2 linked regions of the Homo sapiens genome follow. The protein of the gene in region 1 purifies or fractionates together with the protein of each later gene. This does not show direct contact. Each region holds a gene or a part of one and is shown on either strand. Other genes may lie near its edges.

What was found. Proteins that work in one complex are often made in the same cells at the same time.
Region 2: the proteins of RIOK1 (region 1) and CLNS1A purify together in Homo sapiens (affinity purification with mass spectrometry; 3 studies listed by BioGRID and IntAct, with this or other methods). This does not show direct contact.

Annotation. Positions count from the first base shown.
Region 1 is NC_000006.12:7,412,864-7,419,497, reverse strand, and holds the end of RIOK1 (serine/threonine-protein kinase RIO1), read right to left. Parts: intron 6,610-6,634; coding exon 6,556-6,609; intron 5,261-6,555; coding exon 5,108-5,260; intron 2,168-5,107; coding exon 2,057-2,167; 3' UTR 1,461-2,056; downstream 1-1,460. UniProt on the Homo sapiens protein: Involved in the final steps of cytoplasmic maturation of the 40S ribosomal subunit. Involved in processing of 18S-E pre-rRNA to the mature 18S rRNA. Required for the recycling of NOB1 and PNO1 from the late 40S precursor.
Region 2 is NC_000011.10:77,627,795-77,634,794, forward strand, and holds part of CLNS1A (methylosome subunit pICln), read right to left. Parts: intron 2,106-7,000; coding exon 1,969-2,105; intron 1-1,968. UniProt on the Homo sapiens protein: Involved in both the assembly of spliceosomal snRNPs and the methylation of Sm proteins.

The sequences.
Region 1 (6,634 bases):
CCACAGCCTTATGACCCAGAATCCAAACAAGGATACAGCCACATGAGCAAGAGGGGTATCAGAAAAGCTTTTCTCAGGTTAGAATCTTCATTACCAACTCTTGATGTTTTACAAGTCACTTCCTCCCAGCAGCAATGTAAGAGAATGAACTGCCCCACAATCTGGCTATTGCTACATCTGGCCAAGTGGCACTGATTCCAAGCTTGGAAACTGCATGAGATTCAGCAAAAGACAGCACTGAGCAGCTTGACCTCCTAATGCAAACATACCATGTCGGAGAGTAAGATCAAAACAAACACAAGAGTTAGAAGATCCTGAAGATAAACTCCCCAGATGTGTGCAGGATTGATATCTGCTTTTGCTTTTTCTTTTGTTGTGCTAACTGTAGACTATTTTAGAGGGATTATTTTTGTGTTTCATTGAAATTATATTTCATATTTTGAACTTTATAGTCAAAATAAACATAAAGAGCTCAAATGATTTCCCCCTATAACCCACTGTCAAATAAGCAGGGGCAAGCTTCAGTTTAAGTGAAAACTAGGGGTTGATTTATAGAAATTATTTCTAAATGCAATGACTACAAGAGTCACTTCCAACATAAAGTATATCATTAAAAAAATTAAATTGGTAATTTCTTTTAGTATCTGTACTATGTTGTGATGTAAGGTTTTATCTCACCCTCCTACCCTCCCCAAACCTGCTCCCGTCCAGTCTTTCCCATCACAGTAAGTGGCAACTCCAGTCATCTCAGTTGCTGCTCAGGTCAGAAACCCTGAAGTCACCCTTCACTCCACGCAATCTCATCTCTTCCCTTAGAATGTGCAACCACTTCTCTCATGTCTGCCACCATCCTATACCAAGCCATCAGCGTCTCTTGCTTGGGTTTACTTCAATGAACATACCCACTGGTCTCCCACCCTTGCTTCCTGATCAATTCTCCACAGAGGCCAGAGTAATCCTTTTAAAACAGAAGTCAGATCATATCACTCCCCTGCCAAAACCCTCCCACAGCCGTACACTATCTGATTGCATCTACTACTTTCTCCCTTGATGATGATGTCTCAGCCCTGTTTCTGGAAGATGTCACGTACACTCCTGCCTCAGGGCTTTGCAACTGCTGGTTGTTCTGCCTGGCATGTTCTTCCTTCTTGTTATGCAAACAATTCACCTTCTTCAAGTATTTGCTCAAATATCAGCCCTCAGTAAGGCCTTTCCAAGAACCCTATTTTAAACTGCAAACTCTTTCATCTATAGGCGCCCTCTCATCTCTGCATTATTTCTCTCCATAGAATTTATCACCTGCTGATACACTGCTTTTTACTTACTTTGGTTAATGTCTTATCTTCCTATCAAAATGTAAACTACTCAAAGGTAGTAATTTTTGTCTAGTTTGTTTTCTGCTGTATCCCCAGCAACTAAAATACTCAAATTTTTGATGAATGAATGAATATGCCAAATGATTGAATTGTAAAAAACTTTATGAACTGAGAGGTCCTAACTCCAAAAAGAACATTAAAGACGAAGTGTAAGAGCATTACAAATGATCGCCAATACACACAAAGGCAGAGTTGCAGTGAAAATCAACAGCCAGCTGAACTGTGGGTGAAATTCCCTTTATATAAACATGGCCTTATAATCAGATGACCTCAGATGGGTCTCTGGTGTGTACAAAGAAAGCAAAACCAATTTTCCCATGAGTGCCTCTGGACACTCATGTAAGAGTTACAGATGTTGACTACATTTAAACATTTATCATGCTTCCAAAAACATATTTGTAAGAGAAAAAAATATAAAAATAAAAATGTACAAAGTTCTTTATTAAAATAATAGCTTAAATAAATCCTCTGTCAACACCAGACAGAGTCAGTGACTGGATCTAGACTCTAGAGCTTAGAGCTTTTTACATAGTTACATGAAAACATTTGAATCCGTCTTCACAGACAGTGCCACGATGACAATCTGGTTAAAACCAATAAGCCATCTTCCAGATGCAGCTTAAGAGTTCAGGCGAGAAAAGGAACTGAGGAAAATGACTGTACATAATATGGTTCTCATTCTATTTGCCTTTTTTCGTCTTGGCTGTCTTCTCCTTTCTTTTTTTCACATGTTTAGGAATTTTGTTTTTTCTTTTCTCTCTCTGGGCTTCCTTGACCATCTTTTTTCTTTCCTGTAAAAAACAAACAAAAAAGCCAACTTTCATTCATTTGGAGTATGCATTTTTTGTTTTTGTTTTTTGTTTTTTGTTTTTTAGACAGGGTCTTGCTCTGTCGCCCAGGCTGGAGTCAGTGGCGTGACCATGGTTCACTTCAGCCTCCACCTCCTGGGCTCAAGCAATCCTCCCACCTCAGCCTCCTGGGTAGCTGGGACAACAGGTGTGCACCACCACACCTGGCTAGGTTTTTTTGGGGTATTTTTTGGTAGAGATGGGGCTTCGCCAGATTGCACAGGCTGGTCTCGACCTCCTGGGCTCAAGTGATCCACCCACCTTGATCTCCCAAAATGCTGAGATTACAGGCATGAGCCACTGCACCCACCTGGAGTATTATTATGATTATAACTAAATAAAATACACACATAGAAGAATAAAAGTGAGTGTAATGTAAAGAAAAGAAAAGAAAATGATTATGGGTTGGTGGAGGAACTTGGGGTGAAAACTGTCTTTCAGTTTTTTCTTTTTAGAGACAGGGACTCACTCTGTCACCCAGGCAGGAGGGCAGTGGCATGACCATTGTGCACTGCAGCCTCAAGCTCCTGGGCTCAAGCAATCCTCTTGCCTCAACCTCCCCAGTAGCTGAGACTACAGGCATGAGCCACCATAACCGGCCTTGAGCTTCCTCTTTTTTTTTTTTTTTTTGAGACGGAGTCTCTGTCGCCCAGGCTGGCATGCAGTGGCGTGATCTCGGCTCACTGCAAGCTCCGCCTCCTGGGTTCACGCCATTCTCCTGCCTCAGCCTCCCAAGGAGCTGGGACTACAGGCGCCTGCCACCACGCCCGGCTAATTTTTTGTATTTTTAGTAGAGATAGGGTTTCACCATGTTAGCCAGGATGGTCTCGATCTCCTGACCTCGTGATCCACCTGCCTTGGCCTCCCAAAGTGATGGGATTACAGGCGTGAGCCACCGCGCCCAGCTGAGCTTCCTTAATAGAAATGTGAAGACAGCCAAACAGAAATATCCCTAAGAATGTTATTAAATGTTTGCAAATACTTTTCTTTACAAGTTCCATATTCTAACAGAAATAGACATTGGAAAGAGACAAAATATGTGTTTCTAGTAGACATATGAGAAAATATGCTAGCAGCTGAGTATGTCCCTCAGAAGTCTTGGGACCCACATTGTATAAGGTTTAAAGGATTAGACTAAGATGGAATAATAATAGTCACATAGCACTCAGTCAGCAGTGTCTCTATGTCTATGGCTAGGGATTAAAGAAATACAAGAGTCCCTTCTTATCCATGGGGGATATGTTCCAAGACTCCCAGTGGATGCTTAAGACTGTGGATAGTGCCAAACCCTATATATACTATGCTTCTACCTATACATACGTACCTATGATGAGGTTTAATTTATAAATTAGGCACAGTAAGAGATAATAACTAATAACAGAATGGTAACAATATACTATAGTAAAAGTTATTTGAATGTGGTCTCTCTCTCCAAATATCCCACAGTATCATACTCATGTGACAGTAGCTTCTTCATTGGCAGATGCAGCCTCTCTGGTAATTTTTCTATTTTTTAGTCCAAACCTATTCCTGAATCTGTGTAACTATTCCTTACAGTAAATGGCCTGGTGGCACTCATTTCAGGGGAACCCTTGCTGAAACCTTTGAAACCTTCGTATAGGCTCAGTGCTTTCTGGTGCAACATGGTGCCATCAACTGGAAGATGTTTTTGTTTACGTCTTTCACCCACAAATTTCATGCCTTTTCCATCTTAACTAAGCAGTTATCACATGCTATGGTCCTAAGTTTTGCAGTTTGGGGTGAGACAGCAAAACCAGCACAAACATCTTTTTCCTTCTCCACAATGTCACGGATAAAAGATTCTCACCAGCAACTTCAGCATATGATTCTTTTCCTTTTATTTATTTTTTTGAGACAGAATCTCACTCTGTCACCCAGGCTGGCGTGCAGTGGCATGATCAGCTCACTAGAACCTCAAACTTCTGGACTCAAGGGATCCTCTTGCCTTAGCCTCCCAAGTATTTGGGACTACAGGTGCTCATCACCAATGTTTTAATAGAGACGGGGTATCACTCTATTGCCCAGACTGGTCTGGAGTGATCCGCCCTCCTTGGCCTCCCAAAGTGCTAGGATTACAGGCATGAGTTCCTTGTTAAGTCAAGAATGGTCACCTTTCCACTTAAAGGAAGCATTTTATGGCTTCTCTAAAGCATACCTGAAATTCCAACATCACTACTCCTGTAATTTACGGTCATTATTAAGCAAAGTAAGGGTTACTTGCACACAAGCACCACAACATCACAGCAGCTGAACTGATAGCCAAGAAGGCTACTAAGTGACTAACGGGTGGGGAGTGTCGACAGTGTGAAGACGCTGGACCACGTGATGATTCACATTCCAGGCAGGATGGAGGAGGACAGCATGAATTTCATCACACTACTTAGGACGGTGAGCAATTTAAAACTTATAAATTGTTTACTTCTGGAATTTTCCATTTAATATTTGCAAACCAAGGCTGACTGCAGGGAACTGAAACAGTAGAAACTGAAAGCATGGATGGGGGGACTATTATATGGTCTTTCAGATTCCAGAAACATCAAGCTGGGCTATAAATCCCCCTGAAATGGCTCTTCAGTATTTACCCTGGGTCAACTCTAACATCACTTGTACTTCATGTGAAATGTACTGAATTTAGTGCGTGCTCTCTCTAGGCAATGCCCAAGGTGCTCTGATGAGCAGCCCAATCTCAAGATAATGTTACCACCAAAAGTCAAGTTCACACTTAGGTATTAAAACTGTAATTAGAGGTACTTATCAATAATGTTTTCAGCCATCATAATCTAGCTAGATCCTTGAGCAAAGAGAAATAAGAGCGGCTGTGCTCCCACACTAAAGAAAAGGGGAAGGTATTTCATTGCTTACTTTTTTATCAATGTCAGGGTCCGTGGTGTGTTTCTTGGGGCGGGCATGGTCTCCCTGCTCTTCAGAGTCTGTGTCAGAGCACTCAGAGCTTCCAATATCTTCTGAATCAGAACAAGTCCTTTCCTCCACTTGATTTTCTAGGAGTGCAGGGACCTTGAAATTATTAAAGAACCATGTTATTCTAAACAACACACAAACCAAGTTATGTGTTGTTGTTAAATGTGTTAATGCCAGAATTCAGATTTTAGGCTCGCAAATATATGTTAAAAACTAACATCCTGTACTGAAACATCAAAACACCAGAATGAACATCAGGAGGGAAACATGAAAGTAGCCACTCCAAGTAAGGCTCCAGAACATACTCAAATGAAGGAACCAGGGCTTTACTGCGTGACCTAGATCAACAACAGAGCTGTTCTCCTTCTTTCAGCTAATCAGGAGCATTTAGTTGGGATTGGGAAAGAGGCAAAATATACATAGAGGTAGAAAATGAAGATTTATATGGATAACTTCACAGCTGTTTTCCTGTGAACCACATTTCTAGCAATAAACTAATCCAATTGGGAGGGAAAACAATATGTGAAGAAGAGAAATTTTCATTACTTCCTGAAATTCAGCAGTTGTCTAATACAGCGCTTCCTAGCAGTTTTTAAGAGTGAGGTTTCCCTTTTATAAGAAAAAAACAGATCTTTAGAAGTCAATTGTACAACAAGATTTTCTAGCTTGCTGCAATAAAATCTTCATGCTCTGGAATCCAAAGCATAACTTCCTTATGACACCTGTTATTATAACTCAGAAATGCAAAATACCAGAATTCCCCTAATTCAATTCTTTCCACAGAAAAGACATGATTTTAAGAAAGCAAACTGTGATCCTTTATTTAAGTCTTCAATTAGGAAGATTTAAAAAAATAAAGACTGCTTTTATGACTGCCTAAGTTAGAATTACTTAATCCCTGCCCTTCTAAAATGTAAAACAAAACAAGATTGTTTTAAGAAAAAAGAACATCACAGGAATCCAGCACAGCAGGACTTGCTGAACTCATGAGATTGTTCTTTAACAAGTAATACCCTGGTAGGAGACTACATTCCAAAGTTCTCCTAAGCTGGTTGTAAAACCATCAAGAAGCACAATGGCTATCATTAAGAGCTCCACAAATGACGACCAGGATACAAAAAGATAAATACCTCACCTGCAATCACTGAACAATTCAGAGACAGAAAGAAAAATAAATTAATTTCCAAATTTCAGTGCTGTGTTTAGAAAGAACACAAAAATGGCATTTCTGAAGATGTCCACAGACTTTGAAAGCAATTATAACATTTTAACAATATAAAATAACATTTAGTTCTAATAATATTAAATAATAATAAAAAACAGTATGACTAGAGTTTATATCCTTTAAAACTGTTTTCACATAAACAAACAGTAACACATGTTCTTCATACCTTCTGAACTCCTGACAAATCTTTCTTCAATCCTGTAACAGTCTGGTATAGAATCTTATAACCAAAATGAAAAAAAAAA
Region 2 (7,000 bases), on another chromosome or scaffold:
ATGACTTGCCTAGCAAGTTAATGACAGAGTTCTTACTTTTTTTTCTTTTCTTCGACCGTTTTGCTCTGTTGCCCAGGCTGGAGTGCAGTGGCGCGATCTCAGCTCACTGCAACCTCCACCTCCCGGGTTCAAGTGATTCTCATGTCTCAGCCTCCCGAGTAGCTGGGATTACAGGCACCCGCCACCACGCCCAGCTAATTTTTGTATTTTTAGTAGAGACAGGGTTTCACCATGTTGGCCAGGATGGTCTCGATCTCTTGACCTTGTGATCTGCCCCCCTTGGCCTCCCAAAGTGTTGGGATTACAGGTTTGAGCCACTGTGCCCGGCCTAATGACAGAGTTTTCTTATTCAATGTGCTTTTGCCCTTAGGCTAGTATTTATTAAATGCTATTTCCTAAGCCTTTCTCTTGGCATGTACCTTTCCCACCTCCAATGGCCGTCACTATTTGGGGCCATTTCACACCAGCATCTGGAGTTGACTGACAAGAGCAAGGTTTCGCATTTCTGCAAATGAATGAATGCTTTAAACTAAACATGACACATAATATTCTTGGTTATAAAATCATAGTTGCATTTACTTAGATGGAGAGTAAATTTTGTGCCAAATGCCTTATTAGGAAGTCTTACTACACTACTACACCCCAAGGTTAACAGCCTTTTACTTTTCCTCATCCTCTTTTTCAAACTTCACTAGATTTTTAAATGTCTTTGAACCTTTTCCAATGGCAAGAATTTGAAATCTTATAACAAAAATATTTTCAGATAGCTGAATCAGTCATTACCACTTAATGAGGCAGGTCTTGCCAAAAGTCCTAAGAATTACTAAATAGTTTCACACCTGAATATAAATGATCATATTATATCTGGAACCATATTAAAATCTAAATTTGAAAGAGCAATAGCCTTGTAGGTAACTTCATAGGATTGTCTCTTACACACTACTTCAAAGAAAAGCAACCCGTTATTTTAAACATGAGCATCTTCACTAGACTTTTACAAGTCTTTGCAATTATCCCAAAGCAAAACTTGAGAATCTTTATATCCTACAGTTTCTCAACCTTGGCACTACTGACATTTGGATGGAATAATTCTTTGTTGTGGGGGACCATCTGTGCATAGCAGAATATTTAGTATAATAATAGCATCCTTGGCATCTAACTGCTAGACACCAATAATACCCTTCCTCTTTCAACCAAAATGTCACTGCCAAATGTGGGGGAATGGTGAGGTTGGTGGAGGCCCATGGAAAATATATCCCCCCTACAACCACTGAGACCCACTACTGAAACAAAACAAAACAGTTCTATCTTAAATTATGAGAAGCACAGGGTATACTGATCCAAGCCCCTAAGGGTGCCTTTTAAAAAGAGAAAGGCAGAATAAACAGTGAAACTTTAGAGGAAAAGCTAGAAATACATATCCATAATAAATGAAGAATTCTAAGTGTAAATATAGAGAAATATATACAGACACACATGAACATCCATTGTGAAAACTTCAAGTGTCCAAGTTGCTGTGCTGAAATTTTGCTTAATAAACTACTACCCAAAATGAGTCAATGGCCTCAATGTTACATTGATTATTATCAAAGACTCTTTTTTTTCTTTTTTTTTTTTTAGACGGAGTCTCACTTTGTCGCCCAGGCTGGAGTGCAGTGGCATGATCTCGGCTCACTACAAGCTCCACCTCCCAGGTTCACACCATTCTCCTGCCTCAGTCTCCTGAGTAGCTGGGACTACAGGCGCCCACCACCACGCCTGGCTAATTTTTTGTATTTTTTAGTAGAGACGGGTTTTCACCGTATTAGCCAGGATGGTCTCGATCTCCTGACCTTGTGATCCGCCCGCCTCGGCCTCCCAGAGTGCTGGGATTACAGGCGTGAGCCACCGTGCCCGGCCTCAAAGACTCTTTTTTAAAATATAATTTGCTATCAAAGGAGGCATTAGATTAAATTACACCATACATACCTTCAAATTTGGCATTCACCATAACATACAAATGCTCTCCTAGACAGTCACTTCGGTCCCTGGATAATGCATGTAAACTAATGGTGGGGTATTCCAGTGAGAATCCTAATCCAGAGCCATCTAACCAAGACAGGCGGCTGAAAAACATGTTTTAAGTAGATTATTTTTAGAAAGTAAATCCTCATGTAAGACCACAAAGTATATAAAAGTTCAGCTTGGACACCTTTATGCATATAAATAAATTCAAGTTTACTTTTTTAGAAACGTTCATAAAATAAGAAAATTCAGTAGTGGAAACTGAGTTTTCTTTAAGATCAATTCTGTTACGGTCTCTTTCCCTCTAGCTATAAATTCAAACAGACTTGAAATTCCATTTTCCTCAGTCACATGTATGTTTCTATGACTTTCATGCTTACTCTTTTTTGGTATGTCTTCAAATACCCTCTTTGCTTTTGCAAATCCTCCCCTCTTCCATGAGGCCTCCCTTCAACTACACCAGTCCATAAAGATCTCTTCCTTTTCTGATTTGCAAATTTTAGCACTTAACTCTGTGGTAATGAGTCTTATATGTGCCCTTATGGAATGTGAACTATCGGACAGCAGAACTTGTCACATTCCTTTATTAACATCCTTCAAAACCGTTAACAAAGAGCTCAGGAGTTAAGTATGCAATAAATCCTTGGTAATCATGCATTTCTCCATGAATCCTACACTAAAAGACATATATATGAAATGGCTGTAATCACACTCACCGCAAGTCAGGAAATAATTATTACCCTGAGAGACAGATTCCCTGAAGCCTTTCATTTATTCAACGTCTTTAAGAGAAAGCCACAGAAAAGCTAGATCTAGTTTTCCCTCAAATGTGGTCAAATGCAAATATTTTATTGGTGTAACAAAGGAAACACATCACCAAAATCAGTATTTTGAGCTTTCAGTAGAGGCTAGCTAATTTTCTGATAATACTTCATCCATCTGGAGCTGTACCACTTAGCAGAAAAAAAGTAAAAAATCCTGAAGAAGTCAAAAAAAAAATGTTAATGCAATATAGTGGTTGCCTAGGGCTAGAAGGAAATAGGGAATGTCTGCTACTGGGTACCAGGTTCTTTTTGGGGTGAAGAAAATATTCTAAAATGGTGGTGATAATTGCACAATTCTGTAAACAGACTAAAAACTAGTGAATTGTATGTTTAAATGGTTAAACTGTATGCTATATGAATTATTTTTAAAAGTTAATGAAGTAAGACCCCTGTATCATTCTATATTCTATACAATTTTAACAAGCCTGGCTGTCTAATTTCTAACCAAGCAAAAACAAAAGTAAAACAGGAGAACCTAGGACTGCCTTGGGCAGGAACAATGACAGTGTGACAGTCTGAGATCACTCATGTTCAGTGGAAGGGGAGGATGAACTTTCCACCTCAGTTCCCCTAAATGAAATCAATGTCTAACCACATGACCCTCAGTTACCGAAAGCATTACCAAAAACAAAGGCAGATTATTAGATTGTGGTGATAACTGTACAACTCTGTAAATATACTAAAACTTACGTAATTGTATACTTTTTTTTTTTTTTTTAGACAGAGTCTCGGTCTGTCGCCCAGGCTGGAGTGCAGTGGCGGATCTCGGCTCGCTGCAAGCTCCGCCTCTCGGGTTCACGCCATTCTCTTGCCTCAGCCTCCCCAGTAGCTGGGACTACAGGCGCCCGCCACCACACCCGGCTAATTTTTTGTATTTTTAGAGACGGGGTTTCACCGTGTTAGCCAGGATGGTCTGGATCTCCTGACCTCGTGATCCACCCGCCTCGGCCTCCCAAAGTGCTGGGATTATAGGCATGAGCCACCACACCCTGCCCCTAATTGTATACTTTCAAAAGGCAAAAGTAAGAATATATGCACTGTCATGTGGAAAGATTTCTATCCAACATTCTTATTAAAAAAAAAAAAGTAAAGGAAAACTAGGAAGCTTATAAGTGATAAATCTTTGTTTTTTTGAGATGAAGTCTCACTCTGTCACCCAGGCTGGAGTGCAGTAGCATGATCTTGGCTCACTGCAATCTCCACCTCCAGGGTTCAGGCGATTCTCCTGCCTCAGCCTCCCAAGTAGCTGGGATTACAAGCGTGTGACACCACGCCTCGCTAATTTTTGTATTTTTAATAGAGATGGGGTTTTGCCATGACGGCCAGGCTGGTCTCAAACTCCCGACCTCAGGTGATCTGCCACCTCGGCCTCCCAAAGTGCCAGTATTACAGGCGTGAGCCACTGCGCCTGGCCTAAAAGTGATAAATCTTAAAGAGCTAAAAGTGATAAAACCTCTACAAATTGTTTTCCAGAACAACTCATTCCTACTGGTTCCAAAGAAACATTGTATTATGTAATGAGGTTATGTGCTGTATGCATCTTTCCTGCCCACTGCTTTCCTTTTAATGTGGAGAGGAAATAATGCCCAAGTATCACGAGTCCCCTACAAAAGCTGTATTATTTTAAAGCAAATAAACTGCCCTTTTCTGATCTCAAAAATTTTCTGGCGTTATCACAATTCAGAAAGAAACATTCCAAATTTGGGTGTCCAAAATAATTTCAAATATCCAGAGCCATAAAACTTGAATGACTCAATGACGACATGGAAAAACTGAAACCTAAACATAGAATGAGTGCCTATCAAATTATGGCCTTCACTTTTAAAAGCCATCATAATACCTCTGTAATTCCTTACTAGTGCAGAGAGAATACAAATGCTCCTCTGCACAGCATTTGCTATGGAACTCTCATAATCTTTTACATGAACTGGGATTATGCATTCTATAGGACAGAAGCCAAGTTCCACACTTAAAAACACTTATTCTAATCGTTAAATTCTTTTTTTTTTAAATAAAAAAAGAAAAGAAACCCTAGGTTTCTGTATTTTACTTTTTCAGATTTACAAATGCAAATCATATATTAATATTCACAGATATTTTTAAATGGGAAAACAACTTACTTTCAACAACTTATTTTTTCCAACAGCATGTTACTATGTTAAAAAAGATTTGACATTATAAGCCGAGCGTGGTGGCTCAGGCCTATAATTTTGGGAGCATTTTGGGAGGCCGAGGTGGATGGATCACCTGAGGTCAGGAGTTCCAGACCAGACTACCAACATGGCGAAACCCTGTCTCTATTAAAAATACGAAAATTAGCTGGGTGTGGTGGCAGGCACCTGTAATCCCAGCTACTTGGGAGGCTGAGGCAGGAGAATTGGTTGAATCCAGGAGGCGGAGGTTGCAGTGAACCAAGATCACGCTACCACACTCAAGCCTGGGCAACGGGGAGACTCCATCTCAAAAAAAAAAAAAAAAAAAAAGAGATTTGACAGTACATTCATTTAATCTGGCAATTTTAATTTGAACAAATACCTATTAACAACAAATTAAATCCTATTGCACATGAATTATTTGTTGCACCACCACCAGATTTTCTAATTCTAGCAGAGGCCACGATGAAATAGGCCAGACATGCTGCCATTAAAGTTTGCTGGGATGATTGTAATAAATCTACTGAAAGTATTCAAGTTCTAACTTTCAAAGTGATGTAGAGAAACATAAAAGATTTCACTGTATCATCTAAAAATATAACTGTTTTGTCTGATCATTAAATTCTGATTTGCATTTACTCTTTGTATATATTCTAGAAGAAATCCTTCTAAAACATTTAATTAATCATACCCAGTTCCAAAGAAACCGTGAGTCAAAAGGGAAAGACAAGAAGAATTAGACACAGAGTAAACATGTAGAGAACATGTTTTGCTGAATTCAAATGCTTTTGCACAAGTATGGTGAGTGTCCTTTATTCCCAGCACGGGATGAAAAACAGGACAGGAAGCTAAGAGAGGTCTTGAATTTGGGTTAACTTAATTATTTGGTTTAAGATTAATTTTGGAATGAGATACAAAAAAAAAATTTTAAGTTTAAATTACCTAATTTTAATTTGATTACCTATTTTACCTGTTTTAAACTGTCTATTTTATATTATTCATGCCTCTGTATCTTCCTTATTTGGATAAAAATTCAACTTCCTGGCCGGGTGCAGTGGCTAACACCTATAATCCCAGCATCTTGGGAGGCCGAGGCAGATGGATCATCTAAGTTCGGGAGTTTGAGACAAGTCTGACCAACATGGAGAAATCCCATCTCTGCTAAAAATACAAAATTAGCCAGGCATGGTGGTGCATGCCTGTTAATCCCAGCTACTCGGGAGGGTGAGGCAAAAGAATAGCTTGAACTCAGGAGGCGGAGGTTGCGGTGAGCCAAGATTGCGCCATTGCATTCCAGCCTGGGCAACAAGAGTGAAACTTCATCTCAAAAAAAAAAAAAAATTCAACTTCCTATAAAAAACTAAGCTCTGAAATAAGCCGGAGATTCTAAATCTTTCAACACAAATCTGAGAGACTAAACCAAGTCCAGCCAAACCTAATCTGTTGCTGTCCCTCTCTGCCTCAAACTAAATAGTTTCACCAAAGCCTAAAGGCTATAAGCCAAATTTATGAACATGACTCTCTCCTTCTCCAGCTTTATCATCTCTGGGCATTCTCCCTCACTCCCTCAGATGAAGAACGGCTGGACTGTATATATATGTACACAGTATGTGTGTGTATTTATACCCTTTTTTTGTATTTATGTTTCACACACAAAAAAATTATTTTGGCCGGGCACGGTGGCTCATGCCTGTAATCCCAGCACTTTGGGAGGCCAAGGTGGGTGGATCATGAGGTCAGGAATTTGAGACCAGCCTGGCCAACATGGTGAAACCCCGTCTCTACTAAAAATACAAAAATTAGCTGGGCGTGGTGGAGCACGTCTGTAGTCCCAGCTACTCAGGAGGCTGAGGCAGGAGAATCGCTTAAACCCGGGAGGCGGAGCTTGCAGTGAGCCAAGGTCGCGCCACTGCACTCCAGCCTGGGCGACAGAACAAGACTCTGTCTCAAAAAAAAAAAAAAAAAAAAAATCTTAAAGAAGAAACATAAGAGATTTGTTTGTGAAAAGCTGAAACAAAT